6 separate regions of the Homo sapiens genome follow, and regions 1, 2, 3, 4 and 6 are each reported to be linked to region 5. Evidence: microRNA targets listed by miRTarBase, many of them from high-throughput screens and not tested one by one. Region 5 holds a microRNA gene; each other region holds the end of a gene's coding sequence.
Evidence for each region. The annotated mature microRNA hsa-miR-6771-3p reads CAAACCCCUGUCUACCCGCAG and lies in region 5 at 1,438-1,458, opposite strand. An mRNA with a match to its seed (bases 2 to 7 or 8) in the 3' UTR can be bound and repressed. Matches are read on the target gene's strand: a 7mer-m8 pairs with bases 2 to 8, a 7mer-A1 pairs with bases 2 to 7 and ends in A, and an 8mer does both.

Region 1 (4,000 bases), not on the chromosome of region 5:
CACTTTGGGAGGCCAAGATGGGTGGATCACTTGAGGTCAGGAGTTCAAGACCAGCCTGGCCAACATGGTGAAACCCTGTCTCTACTAAAAATACAAAAAAATTAGCCAGGTGTGATGGCGGGTCCCTGTAATCCAAGCTACTCGGGAGACTGAGGCAGGAGAATTGCTTAAACCCAGGAGGTGGAGGTTGCAGTGAGCAGAGATTGTGCCACTGCACTCCAGCTCTGGGCGACAAAGTGAGACTCTGTCTCAAAAAAAAAAGAAAAAAAAAAAAAGAAAGAAAAAAATTGAATTGATTTTTCTGGAGAAGAAGGAAGCTAGAGGCGAAAACACCAAAAACAAGAGGAGTATTTCTAAGATTTAAACAAATCTTTACTTTCATGGCAAATTTTACATTTCTCCATTCCATTTAAAATATTTTCCATAGCTTAGCTGAACCAGGCTGAAAGTGGATGTCTGGAGTGGTGGAGGCGATACACCATGAAGTAGACAGGACAATAAAGGAAGGGGAGATAACAGCCTTCTTTGTTTTGCTGGGTGCCAGTCATTCTCTAAAATTCTTGGAAAATTGAGAAAAAGTTAGTGGGCCATTTCCTTACTGAACTACAAACCCCAGCATCAGGGCAGAGTTATCTCTACAAAGCAGGGAGAGAACGCAACAAATAGAGCTTGGCCTCACCGCACTCTCTGGCTTTTGGATCACATTTAATGTGAGAGAGTTGAGCCTGTTCTTGGAATGGGCAAACTCAAAAGATTAAGCCACCAGGCCATGTGACCATTCATCCAGGTGGGTGAAGGTTCCAGGACTCAGGGAAAAAGGAGCTAGGCAGGCAATGAAATCAGGTACATGAGAAGAAATCATTTTGTTTTTTTCAACCGTGGTCTGTGTTGAGTAAAAACTCATTTTAGAATTAATAGAGAATTTCTTCATCTGCTCTGAGCAATTGCTGGTTTGATTTTATAGCTGAATTCAACCACACGGGCTCATTGAGCATGTCATAATTTAGTTTTCATTGCAAGAAGAAAATGAGAGTCTATCTCAAATTTTGAAGAAATATTGAGGAAATTAAAAAATTATCTGGATAAAAGTGCATAAGGGGCGTGTGGAAGCAGAGATAAATGAACACTGCCAGCCCTTCATAAATGTATTATTATATTTGTGTATAATTTATCACCTTGGATTTAGGAATGAAAACTGATTATGTTTCAAAAGCAGCTAAGTAGAAACTTACTTGAATTTGAGCAACAGACAGAGCTAAAGAGAAGAGAATAGACAGACTGAAATTGAAATACCCAAGAAAATAGCATTAAGAGCCTGGTGACTGGGAGAAGGTTAGGGATCCTGCCTTCTAGAAGTGTTATATTGGCTCTTGATCCCATAGTCTATACGTAGTGCTTTGGGAATAACGGGGCTTTCCCAGATGCTAACACTACCAACCAACATAGAGAACCATCAAGGTATAGCATTTCCTCTAATATTATTTCTTTTCAGTCCTTTGAGAAAAGTCAGTTAAAGTAAATGTCATTGTTGTCATGCAGCTTGGAGGCCTGGGAGATATGAGGTCTTGTGAAAATGTGCTAATTTGAACATTGCGTATCAGGAGGAGTTGGTGAAGGGAAGGAGGGTCCTGCCAACTTTTTTCTGTCATGAAAAATGAAGAGGACTATGGGTGGTACTCCAAGCTGGAGCAATGCCCTTCTCTATGAATGCATAAAAGACGCAGGTAGACTTGAGCGGGGAGGACCCAGAGAGGCCCTTGAGGCTGGAGAGATTTAGCCTGAATCTGTGAGTTGGGCATGCCTCCCTTGGGGCATCCTCCAGAATGCTGGGCAAATTGCTGGCAGATTCAGGGCCTTACACATAGCACAGGGCAGTGAGAAAGCATAGTGGTTAACAGTGTGGGCTCTTGAGTCAGATAAACCTGGGTTTGAAGATGAACACTGTCACTTCTCGGCTATGTGATTTTAGGCAAATACCTTACTTCTCTAAAGCCTGTTTCTCTCGTCTTTAAAATGGAAATAACAGTATATCAGTCTCATAAGATTCGCTGCTGCCTGGAACAGTGTAAGCACTCAATAAATGGTAGTTTTGAGGGTTATTTTATTTCTAAAGCCATATGTAGTCAAGTGCCATCATATGACAAATGGTAAGTGCAGCAGTCGTAAGGCATGGCCTAGGCACTTGGGAGCCCACGACAAACAGCTGTCCTGAGAGCTCCCTGGGAGGAGTACCAACATCCGATCCCCATTATGCAGCTCTGGACCCCATTAGCCTCCCAGCTCCAGTATCCTGCCCATTCCCAAATGACCCGATAGACACAGTAACTGGTCCCGTGTTGCGACACGATTAGGATTTTTGCATAAGAGTTCAAGTTAAACAGATGTGAGTCATCTTATTCTTTGGTTCCATAGCATTTGGCTATGCAAATTTCATATTCTCTTGGCTTCGTTTTTCTCCAGTGCCCAACACCAAATAGTGGAAGCAGAAAGAAATGTCAATGGCTGCAAGGGCACGGGGGGAACCATCACTCCTATATGCCTTCCACTGGAAGTGAGACTGGAAGGGTATCAGGCTGGATTTGTTGACACCTTTGATGATTCTGTAGGAGGCTTTGCCAATGTCTTATATTTTGAAATTCATGGCAAGACATAAGCAACAGATTTGGCAAGAGGAAATATTATAACCTGAAAAATGGGACAGATTACTAGAAAAGCAGCACAACCAGGGAGAAGGGAAGGGAAAAAAAGGATGACAGAATAAAAGGAAAAGAGAGAAAAGTAAAAAAGGAAATTGAAGAGAATTAAGTGTTCTGGTGCTGATGAAGCTTAAGAATCAGGAAGTGATAATAACAATAATAGTTATAAAAGTAGGAATGAGATGGTTAGAAAGCCTCAAACAAAAACGTTAGGAAGGAGGGGATCTTTCAGGCATTAGGTGATCCATCTCCTTTCTTTATGGCTAAAGAAAAAAAGAAAGAGAAAAAAGAAGAGAAATAGAGAACCCTGCGTGTCTGGGCCTTTGGGTCTAGGGGATTGGACTATGATCTATGAGACTCTTTCCACAACTAATAATCTATGAATTTATAAGTCATGTATGTTTTTCAGATTCCTTTTTTTGGTTAAGACTTATTTGGCTAAATCACTGTGGTCTGTGTAACTTCTGATGAAAGCCATGTTGTGTTGGATGACGTGAATGCGTTTGATTTTTCGCAGCTCTCAAAAAGTCAGGATCATAATGCCCTTCAAAGTTCTAAGTAGCTTATACAGTGTGATCATGTTTTTTAAAAAGTCGACCAGCCTTCAGGTATGTCCTGGGCCTAATATGCTGCTTTTGGGGAGGTAAGAATCTAGGCTAGAACCAGGTCCTAGAACTTGGTGGCACTCATTTGGGTGATTCCTCAGTTTCCTTGTTCAGCTCTATGATATCTGTTTCCTTGGTGTCCAGGTTTTCCATTAAATACAGCATATCAGAAGAGACTCGAGAGCCAGCCACAATGTTGATCCCACTGATCTCTGAGGATGTTTCTGTGTCAATTAAAAGAGCTGGCTGAGAGCTCATGGGGTCTGGACTTAGGTTTCCCAGGGAAGTGTGGCTGGACCCCAGGAATCCCGGAAGACTCCACCTTTTTAGAAAGGTATCACCAGGGTCTTCTTCACAGTTGAATATATTTTCCTCAGCGCTGGCTGAAACTGTCTGGGGACTGGGGCCTCCAGGAGGTGTCTCCTTCTCTGAGGGAGACAGGATGGATCCCATGGGGCCCTGCTGCTGCTCAGTCTTGCTTGGCTGAACCCCTGTAAACTCAGAGCTCAAGATGGAGGTAGCGGAATCATGGTGGTAGCCCCCTGATGTGGGCACTGGTGCTTCGGCTGCTGTGATCAATACCTCAGGTACCAGTGGCATTTTGATGGGGGAAGTTCTCACACTGGACTGTGGGGTCAGGCTCTGTAAAGTGCTTGTCTGGCTGGTCTCCCTGATGGTGGACAGCTCTCCCATGCTGAA
Region 2 (4,096 bases), not on the chromosome of region 5:
GTTTTTCTGAAGTTCTTTAAGTTAAAAATAAAGACTGGCCGGGCGTGGTGGCTCAGGCCTGTAATCCCAGCACTTTGGGAGGCCGAAGTGGGTGGATCACAAGGTCAGGAGTTCAAGACCAGCCTGGCCAAGATGGTGAAACCCCATCTCTACTAAAAATAGAAAAATTAGCTGGGTGTGGTGGTGGGCACCTGTATCCCAGCTACTCGGGAGGCTGAGGCAGGAGAATTGCTTAAACCCGGGAGGCAGAGGTTGCAGCGAGCCAAGATCACGCCACTGCATTCCAGTCTGGGCGACAGAGCAAGGCTCCATCTCAAAAAATAAATAAATAAAGACCAACTACTTCAAGCAATTTATGGTCAATCATTGATTTGAAAACTGGGCCAAGGCGAAAAGGTTTTGTGGGACAAACTGTCATTGGGATAGGTCCTGAAGCTGCAGATTCATCAAAAAGTCCAAAATTATGCCGGGTGCAGTGGCTCACGCCTGTAATCCTAGCACTTTGGGAGGTCGAGGTGGGCAGATCACAAGAGGTCAGGAGTTCAAGACCAGCCTGGTCAACATGGTGAAACCCCGTCTCTATTAAAAACACAAAAATTAGCCGGGTGTGGTGGCACACGCCTATAATCCCAGCTACTTGGGAGGCTAAGGCAGGAGAATTGCTTACACCTGAGAGGTGGAGGTTGCCTTGAGCCAAGATCACGCCACTACACTCCAGCCTGGGCAACAGAGCAAGACTGTCTGAAAAAAAAAAAAGTACAAAATTATATGGTTCTGAAACTTGGATATATGTCTCTTGAGTAGCTGCATTGCAATCTTTTCTTCTTTTCTTTTTTTTTTTTGAGACAGTCTCACTCTGTCACCCAGGCTGGAATGTGGTGGCGCGATCTCGGCTCACTGCAAGCTCCACCTCCCGGGTTCACGCCATTCTCCTGCCTCAGCCTCCCGAGTAGCTGGGACTACAGGTGCCCACCACCACGCCCAGCTAATTTTTTTTTGTATTTTTAGTAGAGACGGGGTTTCACTGTTAGCCAGGATGGTCTGGATCTCCTGACCTCGTGATCTGCCCATCTCAGCCACCCACAAAGTGCTGGGATTAGAGGCGTGGGCCACCACGCCCAGCCTGCAATCTTTTCAATTACTAACACTTGATCCAAATGTAAAGCAGCAAATAGATTAAAAGAAAACAAACAAACCAAGGCATTACTTAAGGTGTTTTTCCAAAAATCCAATTCCTGGAGCTAGATGTATAAAAAGCATAAAAACAAAATTATCAACAACTAGGTTAATTGTTAGGTGAAGTAGTCACAAAAAACATCCCAGGGAGAAAGGTTAGGTTTATGTAACATGATGTAATGGAAACATCACTAGACAGTAAACCAGATAACCTGGATCCCACTCCCATGAGACATAACTGGTTATATGTACTTGGCCTCATAGCTATCTACATTTCTATTTCTGCAAGGAACTTAGAAAACTGGAGGGTTTAGACCAGATGCTTTCTAAGGTTATCTTACAATTTAAACTGTTACAATTTTAAGTCTTCTGAGAAACATTTGTTATCAGCCGTAACAGGAATGTTATAATTAGATGGAATGTGAGTTGCTAGGAACACAGGTATGCACATACAACAAAATAGTGGGGATAAAAATAATACCTTCTAAGAATACTTGCAGCCACCATTGTCCAAACAGACTAAATTCTTGAAGTGGGAAAATCATTGGTCATAAATTGATCTTCCACTTATATCAATAAACCTAAAAAATAATGTTAGCAGTGCTTGTTAAATTTGAGGGCAATGATACATATAATTCTATCTTCTTTATAGTGCTGTTTCAGACTCTGCTACTCAATTGTGTTCCCTCCCAAATTCATATGTTGAAGTCCTAAACCTCAGCACCTTAGAATATGACCTTATTTGGAGATCAGGTCTTTAAGTTAAAAGGAGGACATTGGGAGGGGCCCTAATCCAATCAATATGACTGGAGTCTTTATAAAAACAAGAAATTTGGCCTGGGGCGGTGCCTCATGCCTGTAATCCCAGCACTTTGGGAGACTGAGGCAGGTGGATCACCTGAGGTCAGGAATTTGAGACCAGCCTGGCCAACGTGGTGAAACCCCGTTTCTACTAAAAATACAAAATTAGCCTGGCATGGTGGCTGACGCCTGTTAACCCCAGCTACTTGGGAAGCTGAGGCAGCAGAATCACTTGAACCTGGGAGGCGGAGGTTGCAATGAGCTGAGATCGCGCCACTGTACTCCAGCCTGGGCGACAAGAGTGAAATTCTGTCTCAAAAAATTAAAAAAGCAAAAAAAAAAAAAAAAAGAGGAAATTTGGGGGACAGACTTGCACACAGGGAGAACACCATGTGAACATGAGGCTATCCATCTACAAGCCAAGGACAGACCTGAAACAGATCCTTCCCCCACAACCCTCAGAAGGAACCAACTGCCAATAACTCCATTTTGAATGTCTGGCCTTCACAACTGTGAGACCATAAATTTCTGCTAGGTAGGCAACTCAGTTTGTAGTAATTTGTTATGGCAGCCATACGAACTAATATTGATGCTAATTTATCATTTTATTAATAAATGTTGTAAGTTATACATTTTCATGCCAGCAACCCCTATCTCCCAGATCTTCCTAACTTTAAATACTTCAGTGGGTTTTCTGTCAATGAACAATTTGACATCAGAAATTTGGGCAAGAGTCAGGCATAATGGCTCATGCCTATAATCCCAGTGATTTGGAAGGCCAAGGTGGGAGGATTGCTTGAGTCCAGGAGTTTGAGACTGGCCTGGGCAACATAGCGAGATCTCATCTCTACAAGAAATTTAAAAACTTAGCGGGCATGGTGCCACATGCCTGTAGTCCTAGCTATGCAGGAGGGTGAAGTGGGAGGATTGCTCGAGCCTGGGAGACTACAGCCCGGGAGCTATGATCAACCACTGCACTCCATCCTGGACAACAGAACGAGACCATCTCTAAGAAAAAAATATTAAGTCTGTGAATGAATTTATGGTTCCTCAACAGAAAATGAAACATCAAGTTATGAATGAGTTATGATATAGTTATTTTTTATTGTGTAAGCCCTTATTAGTTCCTCCCTCATCCCATCTTAAAATATTCAACAATAGATAGTGGCTCAAAAATTTTTTTTTAAAAAAACAGACTGCCATGAAAACCAAATCTTTTCTTCCTGTAATAGTGGCTTCCTAGTGTTATTTCTCATTAATGGGAGTATCCGTGGACTTAACTGTATATTGCATTTTAGTTCTGGTCGTGTAATAATTTAATGACTTCACACATAAAAAACTAATCTTGTCTTGAGTTTTAAAAAGTTACTAGCACCCATGGTTAAGGAAGGAAAACTGTAGCTCACTTCTTCAATACATTTGTTTCTTTTCAATTCATGAAATCAGAGAATATGGAAGAAACAGGATGACAGTCACCAAGAGTGGTTGAAACTACAAACTATCACGCAATTGAAAATACCACATTAAAGATATATTTATATACAGAAAATGGAGCAATGCCAATAAAATTTTATAATTTAAAAAAGTTACTTGTTAAAGGCAGATTTCATAAGTTGTGTTTACAATCATCCATTTAATCATCTCCAAAAAAAGGATGAATTTATTATTTTAAACTAACATTCTGTAAGTTAAAGAGAATAATCAAGTTGTCTCATGGACTGGAAGGTGACTTATTAATTCCCTTTCATTTCCAAACCTCATCAAGCAGTCACTACATTTATGAGGCAAGTCAGCTGAATGCTTGAAATCTAGATGAATTTTAAGATCTTCAATTTGTCCTGTTGAATATTCACAATATTGACATAAATAAATCCCTTCAGATAAATGTGAATTTAAATGCTTGCAATATTCTAGCATACTTGAAAAGCCTTTCCCACAGTCATCACAAACATGAGGAAAAATTTTTGTATGTTCAATAGCAACATGCCTGTTAACATTTGTGTGAAGTCTACTCCGAAAACCACATACTTGACATACAAAGAAGTTTTTACATTTGTCAAAGGTAATTTTGCTTAAGAGGCTATACTGTCCATGTTCACCATTGTTATACTTATCACTT
Region 3 (4,107 bases), not on the chromosome of region 5:
GCCGTCTGGGGGCGGAGTCCACTGCCAGGAACCCCGGAGGCAGTTGGCAGGGGGTCCATGTGTCGGGGGCCTACCACCATATGCCACCTTCCCCAGACAGTGCCCTCCTGGGCGACCCTACCCCCACCAGGACAGCATCCCTTCTCTGGAGCCAGGCAGCCACTCTAAGGATGGACTTCACAGGGGTGCCTTGTTACCACCCCCCTACCGAGTGGCTGATTCCTATAGCAATGGCTACAGAGAGCCCCCTGAGCCAGATGGATGGGCTGGAGGTCTCCGGGGCCTTCCCCCAACTCAGACCAAATGCAAACAACCGAACTGCAGCTTCTATGGACACCCTGAGACAAACAACTTCTGTTCCTGTTGTTACAGGGAAGAACTGAGGAGGAGGGAGCGGGAACCGGATGGGGAGCTCCTGGTGCACAGGTTCTGAACGGGTGGAACACTGAAGGGCAAGGAGGCTAAACAAAGTTAAGCTCAACTAATTGGCTCATCAAGAACACAGTCCCCATGTTGAGGGGGAAAATGCAGTAATGTTTGTGGGAGCCTGGCTGGAAACTTTTAAGTGTGTGCACACAGGAGTGCTGCCAGGCTGGCAAGAGCAGGTCGGGGCTGGATGGCACCTCAGGGGCTGTACTATTCCTCTGCAGAGCTTGACTTGATGAGGTTTGAGGTACAAGGGGAAAAGATGGCGATTCTGTCTTATAACCTCCTGGGTCCCATCCAGGGACCTAAGAGAAAGTAGCAGGGGAAGGTTTGGTGTGTGGGGGTGGGAGGTGGGCAGAAGTCTTGGGGAGGAATGGGCAAAGGAGGTTCTCAGTCAATAAAACCAAAGTTCTTTAGGTTGGGAAAAAGCACATGGTGGAGTGAGAAGTGTGGAGGGGAAGTGGGAAATTGGACACATTTGCTATTGATTTGAATTAAGCTAGAAATTAAGGTTGGATAAATTCTTCCCCTTGAAGGATCTGGAAAGACAAGGCAGTAATGTGTCCTCATGGGTGCCTGTTAGGAGGTGGGGGTAGTTTAAATCCGTTTGTTTAGATGGGAAAGGGAGGAACTTAAGAGGGAAATCCTTTTCCTCTTAAGGTTTATTTCCTTCCAAGCAGTCATATGTCATCTGTTACAGTTTGAGAAGAGATTGCTGATTACCCCCTGTCTTTTCCTCATCTAAGTCTTTAATTGTATTTGTTTAAAGGGAAGAGTGTGGTGAGAACAGCCGTCATGTGTGTTGCATTTTCTCCAGGTGAATTGGGGCAGAGCTGATCTATTTTTTAACCACAGCAATAACCATACGTTGGGGTTTGAGTGCACCTTGGGAGGGGTGGGAGGACAGACATTTTAGCCAGAGGCTGTTTCAAACAAAACCAAAAACCTAAGTAGAGCATTACAGGCCTCTGTGGCTGCTGCGTTTCTGTAGAAAGCAACTTATTTTATTGACTTTTTTTTTTAAGGAAAAGAAATAAAAAGACCCCAGCAAGCAAAAACATTTAAAAAATGATTTTTTTTCCTCCTACTTAAGTGGTTCTTTCTCCCTTTGCTCTACTTTTGGAGAATGAACTTAACATCCCGGCTTCTTTTGTTAAGCCATAGCTGACCTTAATCTGTGGTTAGTTTATTAAAATAATTAAAAATACTTTCTAAGAAGAGATATTTTTGATATTAGGACTGATGTTGAAACATATAGGGGCAATTTATAAAAAGGTAGTTAGAGAAATATATTTTAGTGAACTATAACCACAGAGCACAGATGACTCCCAATGAGCTGATCTGTCTTTAGGTTTCTCCCTTTCCCTGACCCTTCCCTGTTCTCTAGGGGCTGGGAGTGGGGATGCGGACACAGTAGGGGGAGCTCCTTCGCATTTTGCACAAAGCACAAGTCTGAACAGCCTATGCTCTGGCCAGAGCCATTTCTAAGAGCTTTAAACCGGAAGACCTATCCTGGGCCAATTTTCCTTTTTCTTTATATTTTTTTCCGGGAAAAAAAGTCAACTATGCAATTGTATACACTCCCGGGTGCATGTGAAGAAGGGGAATAAGTGTACTTATGTGTCCAGAGTATTAACTGGGGCTGTTTTTCTGTGTTTGGATTTCTCTTTTGAGGTATGTACTCATAACCCATCCCTTGGAACGTAATCCCCACATTTGATCTAAAGCACTTGAGCGTGCATGCATGTGCGTGCGTGCATATGTGTGTGTGTTTTCCTCCTCGGTAGCCAGTCAAGATTGTCCTTGTTGGAAATGCTCACGGTTTATAAAGGTTATTTTCTCCTCAACAAACTCAGAAGTCACCTATTTTCCAAATCTGATTTAATAATTTCCTATGGCTATTAATTCTTAGGGTTTTCTTTGAAAATAGATTTGTGTTAAGGAAGCAGTGAGATTCCAAAGGAAGGGATGTGTATATGTCTAGGCAGGTCTGGAACCTGGTATGAGATGAGCACTCCCCTAAGTTGCAAAATTTAAGGGTTACTATAAAACTCATTAATCAAGATACTATAAAAAATGCAGTATTTAAAAAAATTAATGCAAAAAATTTATGTTGGATAAAATAGCGAAATCTTACAGGATCTGACAGGACTGAGATTAGGAGGAGGGAAGTGAGGCTGAATTGAATAAGTATGGGGATGAATCCTTCTTATTTAAATTTTTGATACATTGTCCATCATAGACTTTTTACATTAATTGTGATTTTTTAAAAATGTTGCATTAAAATAGTATTTATCTTGGTTACTGGGTTTTTTGGCACTCCTTAAATTTTGTGCCCAAGGTGAGTGCTTTGCTCACCTCACCCTAGTTACGTCCCTGTTTCTGTGATTTGAACACTAGCGAGAACACCACTGTGTGCGCCTCCACCCCCATCACACACCAAACAACAGGTGGCTCAGACACCCTGAATTTGCACAGCTCACCTAGCTTTCCTAATTTAGGCCTTCATATCATAGAATGGTGGCCTGGACCAATAGGAATGAAAACAGACCAGGGGTTTTCCCAGAGAATAAAGCCGGAAAAGTTTTGATTCTCCACTGGACTGCTGTGTTTGGATTTGATCTGTTGTTAGATTCTAGTTAACACTTTTGTTTTTAAAAACTAAGGACAAATGAACAAAAAACCTTGTATCATGTTTGTTTTTATTTATAAGTTAGCCAATCCCAATTCCGTTTGCTTTATTTTCAAATAAAAAAAGATGGAAATTTTGAGGGGTGGTCTAGGGGTGAATATGGTAAAATGGGGCTTTAGGCCTTATAGCTTTTTATTAAGAAATAAATTATTTTTTTTATTTGGGAGGGTAACTATTTATTGAGGCATTGAAAAACCTCTCCATTCTAAGGATGAGAGACCCTGAGACAATGGATATTTTTTATAGGAGATAGTGAAGTTTGTTTTGCTTCATTCTTTCGGGGAGGGTCTTGGTGGGATGGGGGGAGGTGAAGGAATAATGCCTGGGAAATTAATATAGATTCAGCTTGGTTTGTGGTATTTTGGGAAGATGAGGGAATAGAAGAGGCAAGCCCATGTCGTTACTGGGTTGGGGAGAAGGAAAGAAGGGGCATATGGCCTGCACTCGAAATGGGCAGAAAAATTCCTTAGTTAAGGAGGGGTGTGTGAGTGAAGGGGGAAGGTAGACCCTTTAACCCCAAGTGAGGGATGATATCATCTCTCAGGCTTAAATTTAAGTGCACTTAGTTCCTTTAATCCAGGGCAACTGGGGTACCTACTGAAGTTTTTAATGGAGAGGGGAGATTTTCAGGGTTCTTGTTTTTCCCTTTTTGATGTTAGACAGTGCTACTCCCTCCCTGCTGTGCTCTCTGCCCCATCTCCAATGGAGTAAGTATTACTGTAGGATAGGCCTCCGCTTCTCCCTTAACCTATGCTGCATTTATTGAAAGTTACAAGATTTAACCAGAAGTTTTTCCTCCATACTGGTTTTTATCAACAAAATAAAAAGATTATATCCAAAGATTTTTTAAAGATTCAGTCTTTTTAAGGAGTGGAGATGGTGTTAAACTCAGTGCTGTAGAGGGCAGTGGAAGGGAAGTACCTTCCCTCTATTAGCTCAGTTTTTTTTTTTCTATCAAGCGAAACTAAGGCCCACAGACAAACAAGAAT
Region 4 (4,107 bases), not on the chromosome of region 5:
CAGGAATTTGAGGCTGCAGTGTATGTACCATGATCGCACCACTGCATGCCAACTTGGGAGACAGAGCAAAACCCTGTCTCAAAAACAAAAAACATCTATTTTTTTTGCTTGTACTTTGATGAACATCCTCAATGATATTTTTAAAAACACATTTCAGGAAGCTCTATGCAGAACTGTGCCAAGGCATCGTGGACATAGCCATTTCCAGTGTCTTCCCACCCCCAGATGTGGAGCAACCTCAGACCCAGCCAGCTGCCTTCATCAAGCTGTGACAGAGGGCACTCCCTGCTGCCTTGGAAAAAGCACGGGGTCCTGCTCCAGGGAATGGTGAAATGACTGGATTGCTCTTTATCCAGCCCACAGCAGGGGAAAGAAAGGCAACTCGCAAAGATGAGATGGAAGAAGGCACGTGAGCAGAGGAGGCAGCTCCCAAAGAGAGGGCTGCTCAGGGGGCTTCCCAGATGTAGCTCTCAGCAGTGCTGTTGAGACTTTTGAAAACAACTTTGGTACACAAAGGCAGCTTTGTGAGCAGAGCTCCTTCCCCTCTCCCCGGGAACGGCAGGGCACTGGGACCTCTGGTCGGTGCCTCCCACCCACTGCAGCCCTAGTGCCTTAGCTCCATGCCCGGCTGCAGCCCCACTGCTCTGGACTATGGATTGGACGTCAGAGCATATTGGAGGTTGCCTGTGTGTTCCCCACCCATCCCTTCGGTAACACTCTGCCACACTAAGCTCTGTACAAGCATGCACCAACAGTCCTTAGTTTTGTGCTGTGCACTGGCCTCTCGGCAAAGGTGGTTTCCCTCATCACCTTCCTGATGGTGTTTGGTCAGTCACCTGTCAGGGTTTGTGCGGGTTGGGCCCCAAAACAGCATATGCTGCTCTAAGTCTGCTCTCTGCATGTTTTAGAAACAAAGTGGCAAGTCTGCCCTGAACCTGTAAGCATCAAATAAGCATGAGAGAGAAAAAAACATGATATATTGCTTTACTTAATAGGTTGAATATGGTAGGTCTTTGAAAATATGATGATTCAATTTTCTCAATTTTCTTTGCTTTAACCAAAATTCTAAATGCAGTTTTGCCTAGTTCCCTTTTTTTTTCTTTTTTTACTTTTTTTTAAACGTTTGTAAAAACCTCTTTGAGGATGAGGAGTCAGTAAAATTCCACTCCCCAAGTGGCCCTGCCCCAGACAAAGGTTGCTTTCCCCCTTTTTGTTCTTTTTATGCCCCCAAGCACTTTCTGCAGTAGCTAGAGGGACAGGTTTCCTTCCAGGAAGGATTCGAGTTCCTGTGCCTGTGGGTATTAGGAGAGTATATATCCTGCCTGAATGGGGAAGTCTTCTAAAATGGGAAAGAAGTGGTTTCATCTCCACACAGTGTCTTGTAAATCTCAACAAATGTGTACTGTTAGAAGTGGCTTCCGCTTACTGGATTAACTAATACTTTATAGGCTTTTCAGGAGGCCACATCACTAGCAGTAGGGAGAACAAGATGTCATTTGTGTTCAGTGTAAGCTGAGTAAACAGGCCCTTCCTAGAGTGTCCTGGAAATCACAGCAACCCATTGAAAACTGCCCTCCCCACCAGAACGTGCTACGTTCTTTCTTCATGCCTATGTGTGCTCCATTCCTCATTTCTACTTGGCTCAAGAAAACATTTCTGCAGTCAGGTGAGACTTTTACAAAAGAGGAGAAAATCAATGCCTCCTTGAACATGATGAGATGTGAGAACTTACAATGAAAAAGGCAATAATGATAGAAATTATTTCTTAGGTACAGCAATAGTTGATAGGATGTGAGGGTGTTACCTTGGGGTGAAGTGGAGAAGGTCCCAGGTGAATTGGCTCTCATGGAAATTTGGAATTACAAAATAAACGTCCTGGGGGTTACCCAGAATACAGATTTAAAAGTTTGCCTGTAGAGCAAAATAAAACAGTCAGTTGTAGTCATTAATCCTTGAGGCCCAACGCAGCCGATGGGTTGGTGTTTGGGAAATTCTGAGATGGGAGTGAGATCTGATCGGATCCTGGGAAGATGTATACCCAGTTAGAACGTGTAGGGTTCTGGGTCCCTGGCAAGTCTAGGTGGGCGGGTGACAGGGAAAGCATGGGCATTTTTGTATTGCTGTCACATGCTAACAGAGGTTTGTAATTATCTTTTGGACCCAAATTATAGAGACATTCACGAGTTTTCTAGCCCTCACAGTAACAGAGCTAAGAATTCAGATGTCAGGAAGTCTGTGAATCTTGATGGATTTTCTGAGAAACCTGACTCAATGGCATATATAAGAGGGAAGTAAGACTTTTAAGAAAAGAAAAAGTTATGCCTCATTCCTCATGTGGCTTCCAATAAGTATCTTAGGAACTTATTTCCTTTTTAAAAAATATTTTTTAAATTTTTAAAATTTGATTTTAAATTTCAAATAAATTTAAATAAATTTTAAATAAATTTTAAATAAAATTTTACAGAGACGTGGTCTCACTGTGTTGCCCAGGCTGGATTGCAGTGGCTATTCGCAGTTGTAATCATAGCACACTGCAGCCTCGAATTTCTGGGCTTGAGCAGTCCTCCCGTCTCAGCCTCCTGAGTAGCTGAGACTACAGGTGCACACCACCAAGCCTGGCTTTATGTATTTATTTCTGTTCATGCGGAATGATTGGTTCAGAACTGTTCCTTTCCCTTCCATGATGTCCTTGACACAGAAGGTTATGCCTGGCTCCCAGTCAGGCTTCATACTTTTGGTCCATGTAAGTGCTACCCGTTGCTGGGGGAGGAGTCATGGTTTATTTGGAAATGTCAGTTGCAATCATGGTTCTGTCATTTGACTGCACAGTATCAGAGGAGCCTGTTAACCTCTCTGTGCCTTAGTTTCTTAGCCCATGAAAGAGATCATTGCCTGACCCAGGGACTACCTCAAGGGCTTTTGATGAGGACAAGTGACAGTAGGAAGATGCAAGAGCCTTTAGTACCAAGGTTCTCAACACTGACTACATGCTGGAATGACTGTGAAGCTTTTAAAAAATGTTAGTGCCCACTCTTCCCCTGTACCCCCGGACAGTTAAATCAGAACCTCAGACAGCAATATGCCTTGAGATGCCTTGAACCATGCTTGAGAAGGAAGGACAAACACATTATTATCTTGGAAGAATTGCATAAGGCTTATGACTTAAAAAAAAAAATTCTTTTTGGAAACACAAGCATTTCTTTAAGGATGACCGGATGTTGCCGTATGTATTTATGGCACAAGCAGGTGTTGTCTAAGCAGTTTCTCTGTTTGCTTGTCATAGCAGCATTTGGAAACTCAAACATGCTTTCATTTACATAAATAGTTTATGAAGCTTTGACAACAAATGTAAACAGACACGAAATTATAAATCTGCTAAATATGTATTAAGGGTATTAATTATTGAAAGTCCCTTTCCCCAAAACTCAACTCCTATGGCAATTATGAACTCCATTTTACCAAGAACATTTAAGTGCCTCAGCATCTGTATGATATAGTGGAGCAGGTGCTGACATAGGTACCAGCTGACATGATGTGTCACTAGCTCTGTGGGATGATTGCCACATACATGGAACACCTGGGAGTGCTGGAAATGTACTGTGATCGAAGTGACAAAGTGTGTTTTCATTCACAGTGGAGGCTACATCAAGCAAGGGGAGGTCCAGCCCTCTTGCAAGTGTGGTGAGAGGCTCTACTAGCAAAGACATGGGCACCGGAGTAGGTCCCGTGTAGCATGCGGGTGCTGTAGAGAAAATTCAGTGACGTACATGGCTCTGGTTCTGGACACAAAATCTGTACTGGAGAGGAAATGACTGCTGAAATAAGGCGATTGTATGAATATTTAAAATGCCTGGAACACTAAAGTAAAGTAATGATATTTCAAGTGTTTTTGTGCTCTTTGGTTCTTGTTGTAGGTATTGACTGTCCTGGGATATCACTGGTCATTTAAATTCACCATATAATTAGCCGGGCATGGTGGCATGTGGTGGTGGCTGAGGTGGGAGGATCGCTTGAGGCTGAGGTGTGAGGCTGCAGTGAACCATGTTCACACCACTGTACTCTAGCTTGAGCAACAGAGCAAGACCCTGTCTCAAAAGTAAATAAATA
Region 5 (4,107 bases):
GCTCCAAAGTCCTTAAGCTCATGGACCATCCACAGCCCAGAGAAAAGGCAGCGGGCCAGCCTTGGATGTAATGCTGGCGCTGCAGGCAGAGGACCCAGGGGGTCTCCTGGGACCCACATCTACACTCAACGGCACCCAGCACCCACATCGACACTTGACAAACTCAGGTCAGTGCATTCAAGTAAAATTTTGTGGTTCCCTGCAAATCAGCCAAAGACAGGTGTCAGAACCGGGGCACTCTTGGGCACCAAGGCCGGGGGGCTTTACCTCATTCTGGGGGTCCTGTGCTCCCTTGAGAACCATCTGAAAGGACCCCTTCCTTCACAAAAGCTATGTTTGCTCACACAGTTTTACAGTTTTGGGGGTGTGCTAGATCTTTCAATACCAATCTAAATTCTCTAATTTAAGAGCCCTGATCTGATCCTGCCCACAAGTGGGGGTTCTGAGACCCAGGGAGGGCCCCAGATTGACCTGGAACCATGGGGCCCTCTCCCAATCCCTATATGGGCAGGGGTCTGAGCCTCCAGATAGGGCGGGGAGGCCGCCTGGGGGCCGGTGGAACGGTGGGCCCAGTCCCCGGGATATGCTAATCACACGTCTCACCGCCCACCTGACATTCTGGTGCCTCTTGACGTAGAGGCTGTGGAAGTTGTTGTCAGGCATGCAGCGACGGTCACCATGCTCCTTGAGCCGTTCGATGATGGCCAGCTTCATGCCCATGGAGATGTGGGCCGGAAGCACTGACAGCAGCAGGTTCTCCTGGGTGTGGGTGGGCAGACCAGCAGAGGGACCAGCAAAGCGACCGGCGGAGGGACCAGCGGGGGACAGGCAGGGTAGCATCAGGTCCCAGACCTGGCCTCCTTGGCCCCCATCCTCCCTGCCTGCCTGCCCTGCCCACAATGTCCCCATCTCTGCTCTTGTCCTCCACCAACCCAACTGAGCATCTACCTCCCATGTACCCAGCAGCCCCCGGGACTCAGGGTGACTGAGAAAGGGCTCTTTCAGCTGGGGAGGCTAAGCTGATGGGTGAGCAGCCTGGAGCCACTACGGCCTTCTCTGCCGCCACCTGGGGACTGCGTGCCCAGGACTGAAACCACACAGAGGAAGGCAGAGTCAAGGGTCAGCAGGCTATGGTTACCCTGCTGGAGCCCAGGACTCACCGAGGTGAGACCTGCATGGGTGTCTGGCCATGCACCTCATGCACATGGCAGCATGAGTGTCTCATGTCCAACAGAAAGAGGAAGAGGACAGGGGTGTACAGGGTGAGGAGTGGGGGCCGGGTCCCACCTGCTGGCGCTTCTCGATGCGCAGCTTCCGGCGGATCTGGATGCACTTCACAGTGTAGGTGAAGAGGTCCCGGGATGCATCCTGCATTTGGTGCTTGTGGAAGGCGCCTGTCAGGTTCCCACACAGGAAGATGACTGCGTTGGCCAGCAGCTGCGGGTAGACAGGGGTTTGGCTCATTATGTGGCCTGGCCCATGCCCTCCCGAGGCACCAGACCCCTAGGCGGACTAGTGATGGCACCTCTTCCCATTCCCTGACCTTCAACCCACTGAGAATGGCACTCTTCCTGGGGCAGACAGGGAAACTGAGGCCCAGACAGGAGCTAGTCTCCTAGTGAGTCACTAGGACTGCAAGACCAGGACACCCAGGGAGGCAGAAGAGACCACCTCACAGAGCCCAGGGCCCGAGGGGCATGCGTGCTAAGGGCAGTCCCAGAGGGCACAGCGCCCAGCTGGCTGTGTGGAGGGCCAGCCTCTGCCTGGAGAGGACACCAGGCCTGGTCAGAGGGAAAACACTTCTCTAAACACCCAATAATTATGAACAGAAGATTCACTCATTCAACACAAAGACACAAGGCAGTGCCCTGGGGTACTCCCCCAAGCCCCGCCAGGACAGGGCCTTCGAGGGGAAACTTCGGCAATGGGACTCACCCCACGACAGTGTCCCTGAACCGGGAGGCAAGGCCTGAGGTCACGACCCTGAGGGCTGAGCCACAGGGGAGCCCTAGGCCAGCAAAGCAAAGGCCAGAGGGCAGGGCCACGCCTGGAGCCCAGCTTCCGAGCAGACGTGGAGAGGGCCCGGCCTTGGAGCGGGCTGTCTGCAAACACGGCTCCGGGGCCTTCGGGTCTGATTCACCCAGAGGGGGCCCCCCCATCTGCCCTTAGACCCAGACCACAAAACCTCCCCCAGAGGCCTTAGCCCATCCCTCACCTGCAGCCCCACCCGGACACTGGGTGTCGTGAAGCCTCCCATCAAAGAACCGAGCACCAGGAGGTGGGAGGCAGTGGAGACGGCCCCAACGGCGACAGCGCCCCGCATGCTGAAGGGCAGTAGTGTGTACACCACGAAGACAATGAACAGGAAGAAGGGCACCTGTGGATGCAGCCTGGTGAGCCCGGTGCCCCAAGATGCTGCCCCAGGCCGTACAGCCCCCGGAACCCTGCACCACAGCAGCCCACCCAGTGCGTATCCTTAGGTTGGCTCCCTCGCCACCCCCTGCGTGGGCAGACATACAAGGGAACAAGAAAAGCCATAATGTGTTTCTAGGGTGGGCCCGGCCACAAGGTTCATGGTTTCCTGTGCTGATCCACTGCCTGTGGCCACCCTAGGTGGGAGGCTCCATGCCCCGCGTGATCCAGGGAGCCCCCACCTGGTGCCCCTGCCACGTGGTTCTCGCTCAGCAGAAATGATTACCGGGAGGCTGAGGCACCCTCTCACCAGCTGCCTCCAGCAATGCGGCCCCACCCGCCCTCCCTCCACCCCCAGAGCTGCCCCACCATCCCCACCGGCTGGTCCTGCGTCCACCCCTCTGGGAGTGCTGCCCTCTCCCTCCCCTTCAGTCCACATGGTTTCCTTGGGCCTCACCCCACCCTGCCCCAGCCACAGGAGCTGTCATAGGACCCAGGCCCACTGGTCAGAGTGTGCTACCGCTTGGTGACAGCCTCTCTGGGACTGGGCCCATGACCACAGCCAGGCCAGTGTGGCTCAAGCCTGCAGGTCGAGCTGGTTGAGAAAGGGCCCTCTCTCTCAACTGGGGTGGGCAGCCTGGAGCCGCTGTGAACTTCTCTGCCCCCACCTGGGGACAGCGTGCCCGGGGCCGAAGCTGTCCAGAGGCCCCAGTTCCAGTTACCCACTGGAGCCCAGCACTGACCCCTTGGCCTTTCCTGACACAGGAACCAGTTTGTGCCTTTTTGCCTCTTTGAGCTGAAGTTCTGTCATCTCCAACCAAACTGGAGCCACCCAAAAGTGCTGCAGCCCAGCGTCCGAGTGGATGCTCTCCCCACCTCAGCCCTGTCAATGCAGAGAACTCACAGGGACAAAACCAGCCTGGGGCCATCCTAGACACACAGCCAAGCGTGGGGCACGAAGGGCCTGTGGCATGCCCACCAACCACGGGGATGGGAGCTGCTGAAGGCGCAGCTGGCAGGGAGTCCAGAGTTCCTGTTACCTGCTCCCACGCACAGGCCGCCTTTGTCCATGCGTCGAACACCAGCACATAGCCCAGCGCCACCAAGCAGGCCCAGGTGAGCAGCGCCAAGGCCCTGAGCCAGCGCCGCAGGAGACACTCGACGTACATCAGCACAGAGAGGGCCGCAAACACCGCCAGCACCAGGAACGCCATGCCCAGAATGGCCTGGTGTCTGGAGGGGTCCTGGGTGGAGCAAACAGACAGGAATGCCTCGGCTTTCCCCAGTGCAGAGCCACCTCCTCCAGAAAGCCTGCCGGGCCGGCTGCCTCACTTACAGCTTCCTCCACGTGAAGGGTGTGGATGCACCCTCCCACACCTGGTTCCCACTCACCTTCTGGCCTTTGTCACCTCTGCCAAGGCTGCCTCAACCACCCCCTTCCCATCATCTCGGGAACCAGAGCATCACCCACAGCCCCGCCCATGATGCCATCACTCTCCATCTGCCTCTGCCTCCTCTCTGGGTTCCCACGGTGCTCTGTGCACAGCCGCAGGTGATACCACAAGCACAGGGCAGGACTCATTCACAGGCAGAGCCTTGTAAAGCCGCCCAAAGAGGACACTGCGCCTGGCCCTCAGTGAGTGAGCAGAGGCTGGTGAGGGATACCAGGAAAAGTCATCCCACAGGGGAGGAGCT
Region 6 (4,107 bases), not on the chromosome of region 5:
ATTCTGAATGCTTTAAATCCAGCTCCTCTTCCTTGACTCTTACTAGTTGGAGGGACAGGATCCACTAGAGGTAACAACTACAGACTTCTGAACACATTTTCAGTTGGTCTCCGTTGCCATGTGGGAGACCAAAAGTCTAACCAAGTGATTAGTAGCCATCCCAGTGATGTTCTTGACCATAAATTGAGAGCTCAGCACATTCCTGGCACCGAATTGCCATTCATTTATTACCTGATATCATTCTCACATTCACAAGCTTTATGAGCTCATTTTACAGGTGAGTGATTTGTTCAAGATCACACAGCTAATAATGGCAGAGCTGGGCTTTGGACTCTGGTCTGTGTGGCTCCAGACACCACCTTCTTTTTCATATTCCCCCACAGCCTCCTTGGAGGATGCCGAGAAACCTTTCAAATTTTGTTGCCTTTCTGGTTTTGTAGTTCTGCTGATGGAACAGCCAGCCATGAACAAGGTGAGGAAGAAGAAAGAGGAAGCGCTGAATTATCTGAACTGGAGAAGCAATAAAAATTAAAGTGAAGGAAAATACTGAACTCTGTCTGAGTGGGATGGTATGAGTTAGAGGAAGAATTCTCTTGCAAATTAATAATCGGTCATTAGAAACAATTGGTTAATGGGGGAGCCTAATTGGAGAATGATGCTGAGAATTTGTATTGATGAACCTCTTTTAGAAACTGCAGAGGGCTGGGCACGGTGGTTTATGGCTGTAATCTGCAAACTCTGGGAGGCTGAGGTGGGAGAATCGCTTAACCCCAGAAGTTTGAGTCCAGCCCAGGCAACACAGCAAGACCCCATCTCTATAAAAAGAAAAAATAAAGAAACTGCAGCGCCTTAGACCTGAGGTGTCATATCTTTGACAGTGGGCTGGCAGACGTTTGCTTTGAGTTCCTTCTCTCCCATCTGGATCTCCCAGCCTTTTCCAAATTGAAAAATGCCAGATCAACACAAACCTTACCCCACCCCCACCTCCGAGTCACACGTGCAGAACTGTTGATACACCATTTGGCTTCAGCAGATATTACTTCCATACTACGTATTAGGTTGCTGCAAAAGTAATTGTGGTTTTTGCAGTTACTTTTGCAGTGGCCTAATAGAAATATTTCTTCCCTACTCTTTCCTCATCTCTTCCCAAACTCTCTGCTATTCCCTGTTCACAGCTGGCTGTGGGGGCCTTTGAGGACTCCAGATCATATCCCTCTAGGCAGGGAACAGATCCTCTTGAGCTGGGCTTTCTGAGTGGGCTTTCTTGAGTGGGCTTTCTGAAGATTACAGCAGCACTCTGACTTCCATGGCCCTTTGAAAGTCCTGAGCCTCAGAACCTGCCCAGGCCCTAGCAATGTGTCCCTCACAGCTCCATCTGTGACCTGAGCTTCAGAACACATCTGCAGAGCACAGAGACCTTGCCGTGCTTCTCCCATGATAATTATTGGCTTGCTTTTTTTGTTTGTTTGTTTTGTTTTGTTTTGTTTTTTTAGAGGCTGGAATGCAGTGGTGTGATCTTGGCTCACTGCAATTTCCACCTCCCAGGTTCAAGCAATTCTCCTGCCTCAGCCTCCTAAGTAGCTGGGACTACAGGCATAAGCCACCAAACCCGGCTAATTTTTTGTATTTTTAGTAGAGACGGGTTTTCGCCCTGTTGGCCAGGCTAGTCTCAAATTCCTGGGCTCAAGTGATCCACCCTCCTCGGCCTCCCAGAGTGCTGGGATTATAGGTGTGAGCCACTGCACCTGGCCTCGGCTTGCTTTTGATGCTGACAGGAACTTTCAGCAAAGCTGGAAACTTCTAGAAAAGCCTTGGGGAAGCTGTTGGGGCAACTATAACCCAAGTTCCTCATATACCCTGGATATCATTTACTCTAGAATTGGTTACTGTCTTCTTCCTTCCATCCATAAGTGCCTTCTCCTGTAGATGAAGCCCGGAAATAAACTAGGTACAGGAGTCTTCCACCTTCTTTGACTTTTATTTATTTTTATTTATTTATTTATTTTTGAGACAGGGTCTCTCTCTGTCACCCAGACTGGAGTGCAGCGGTGCAATCTTGGCTCACCGCAACCTCTGCCTCCCAGGCTCAAGTGATCCTCCTGCCTCAGCCTCTTGAGTAGCTGGGATTACAGGCACGCACAACTACCACCTGGCTAGTTTTTGTATTTTTATTAGAGACAGGGTTTCACCATGTTGGCCAGGCTAGTCTTGAATTCCTGACCTCAAATGATCCGCCCACTTTGGCCTCCCAAAGTGCTGGGATTACAAGCATAAGCCACTGTGCCCGGCCCCATCTTTGACTTTTTTTTTTTTTTTCTGAGACAGAGTTTCACTCTTGTTGCCCAGGGTGGAGTGAAATGGCACGATTTTGGCTCACTGCAACCTCCACCTCCTGAGTTCAAGAGATTCTCCTGCCTCAGCCTCCTGAGTAGCTGGGATTACAGGTGCCCACCACCACACCCGGCTAATTTTTTTTGTATTTTTAGTAGAAATGGGGTTTCACCATGTCGGCCAGGCTGGTCTCGAACTCCTGATCTCAGGTGATCCACCCACCTTGGCCTCCCAAAATGCTGGGATTGCAGGCGTGAGCCACCGCGCCTGGCCTGTCTCTGACTTTTAAACAGTTAGATTTGGGGTGAATCCCTTTCTTGGAAAGATCGAAAATCCTCTCACAGATGATACAACACAAAGAGCTCATAAATGGCAGAGCCAGGACAGAAACCCAGGTCTTCTGCTTCCTGTCATTGTGCTATAAGAGATCCAGAGCTATACACAGCGCTCAGCCCTTACCTTCCAGGAAGTCACAGCCTGGCAGGGAAAGAAACCATAGGCACAGATTTCCACACCAGACGGGATGCGATAAATGCCACATACATCTGAGGGACCAACATTATCCACAGACGTGCAGGGGGATGTTGCTGAGAAACCCAGATGTTTCTTAAACTTTAATATAGGTGAGAATTCACTGGGCATTGTGCTGAAATGCAGATTCCAATTCAATGGGTCTGGGGTGGGCCTTGAGATTGTTCAATTCTTTCTTTCTTTTTTTCTTTTTCTTTTTTTTTTTTTTTAAGACAGGGTCTCACTCTGTTGCCCAGACTGGAGTGCAGTAATGCCATCATGGCTCACTGCAGACTTGACCTTCTAGGCTCAGGCGATCCTTCCACCTCAGCTGCTGGAGTAGCTGAGACTATAGGCATGCACCACCACGCCTGGCTAATTTTTTATTTTTTATAGAGATGGGGTCTCCCTATGTAGTCGAGGCTGGTCTCAAACTCCTGGGCTCAAGCAATCCTCCTGCCTCAGCCTCCCAAAGCGCTGGGATTATAGGCATGAGCCACCGCACCCAGCTGATTTTTCATTTCTAACCCCAATGCAGCTGGTCCACAGACCACACTTTGAGTAGGAAGGCCTTAGATGTCCAGATTTTTCTCTGTATTATGTAATCCTCCATCCAAATGTCTAGAAACCAAAAGCAGAACAAAAAGCAACCACTGTCAATTTAATAAGGCCAATAAAGGTTACTTTCGGGTGAGTTTTTTGTTTTGTTTGGTTTTGTTTTGAGACAGAGTCTTGCTCTGTCGCCCAGGCTGGCGCAATCTCGGCTCACTGCAACCTCCACCTCCCGGGTTCAAGACATTCTCCTGCCTCAGCCTCCCAAGTACTAGAACCCCAGTACTGGAACCACCACACCCGGCTAATTTTTGTGCTTTTAATAGAGATGGGGTTTCACCATGTTGGCCAGGCTGGTCTCAAACTCCTGACCTCAGGTGATCCGCCCGTCTCAGCCTCCCAAAGTGCTAGGATTACAGGTGTGAACCACCACGCCTGGCCTTGAGTGAGGTTTTTTTTTTTGAGACAGAGTCTTGCACTGTCGCCCAGGCTGGAGTACAGCGGTGTGATCTCGGCTCACTGTAACCTCCACCTCCCGGGTTCAAGCAATTCTCCTGCCTCAGCCTCCTGGGTAGTTGAGATTACAGGCACCTGCCACCACGCCTGGTTAATTTTTTTTTTTTTTTGTATTTTTGTATTTTTAGTAGAGACGGGGTTTCACCATGTTGGTCAGGCTGGTCTCGAACTCCTGACCTCATGATCCGCCCGCCTCAG

Region 1: the mRNA of BEST3 is a reported target of hsa-miR-6771-3p. The part of its 3' UTR that is shown has no 7-base or 8-base seed match.
Region 2: the mRNA of ZNF639 is a reported target of hsa-miR-6771-3p. Seed matches in the 3' UTR shown: 7mer-m8 at 2,115-2,121, 7mer-m8 at 569-575, 7mer-A1 at 234-240 and 7mer-m8 at 139-145.
Region 3: miRTarBase lists OTUD7B as a target of hsa-miR-6771-3p. Seed matches in the 3' UTR shown: 7mer-m8 at 1,297-1,303 and 7mer-m8 at 2,980-2,986.
Region 4: miRTarBase lists TTL as a target of hsa-miR-6771-3p. The part of its 3' UTR that is shown has no 7-base or 8-base seed match.
Region 6: miRTarBase lists TCEA3 as a target of hsa-miR-6771-3p. The part of its 3' UTR that is shown has no 7-base or 8-base seed match.

Annotation. Positions count from the first base shown.
Region 1 is chr12:69,651,525-69,655,524 of GRCh38, forward strand. BEST3 (bestrophin 3) reads right to left here. Exons shown (of 10, transcript NM_032735.3): 10 at 2,085-4,000. The coding sequence ends at 3,383. The region is part of intron 3 of LOC105369823 (a long non-coding RNA gene); the gene reads left to right. Among named protein-coding and RNA genes, the nearest start is that of LRRC10, 43 kb to the left of the region's middle.
Region 2 is chr3:179,334,005-179,338,100 of GRCh38, reverse strand. ZNF639 (zinc finger protein 639) reads right to left here. Exons shown (of 6, transcript NM_001303426.2): 6 at 1-4,096. The coding sequence ends at 3,679. Among named protein-coding and RNA genes, the nearest start is that of MFN1, 12 kb to the left of the region's middle.
Region 3 is chr1:149,940,183-149,944,289 of GRCh38, reverse strand. OTUD7B (OTU deubiquitinase 7B) reads left to right here. Exons shown (of 12, transcript NM_020205.4): 12 at 1-4,107. The coding sequence ends at 433. Among named protein-coding and RNA genes, the nearest start is that of MTMR11, 5.4 kb to the right of the region's middle.
Region 4 is chr2:112,528,524-112,532,630 of GRCh38, forward strand. It overlaps TTL (tubulin tyrosine ligase), which reads left to right. Exons shown (of 7, transcript NM_153712.5): 7 at 158-4,107. The coding sequence ends at 272. Among named protein-coding and RNA genes, the nearest start is that of POLR1B, 12 kb to the right of the region's middle. RefSeq lists enhancers at 72-572, 573-1,073.
Region 5 is chr16:50,290,006-50,294,112 of GRCh38, reverse strand. MIR6771 (microRNA 6771) reads right to left here and starts at 1,497; the gene lies at 1,438-1,497. ADCY7 (adenylate cyclase 7) reads right to left here. Exons shown (of 26, transcript NM_001114.5): 3 at 3,453-3,656; 4 at 2,216-2,377; 5 at 1,288-1,437; 6 at 611-759.
Region 6 is chr1:23,377,808-23,381,914 of GRCh38, reverse strand. It overlaps TCEA3 (transcription elongation factor A3), which reads left to right. Exons shown (of 11, transcript NM_003196.3): 11 at 441-1,006. The coding sequence ends at 449. Among named protein-coding and RNA genes, the nearest start is that of ZNF436, 10 kb to the right of the region's middle. RefSeq lists an enhancer at 3,661-3,730.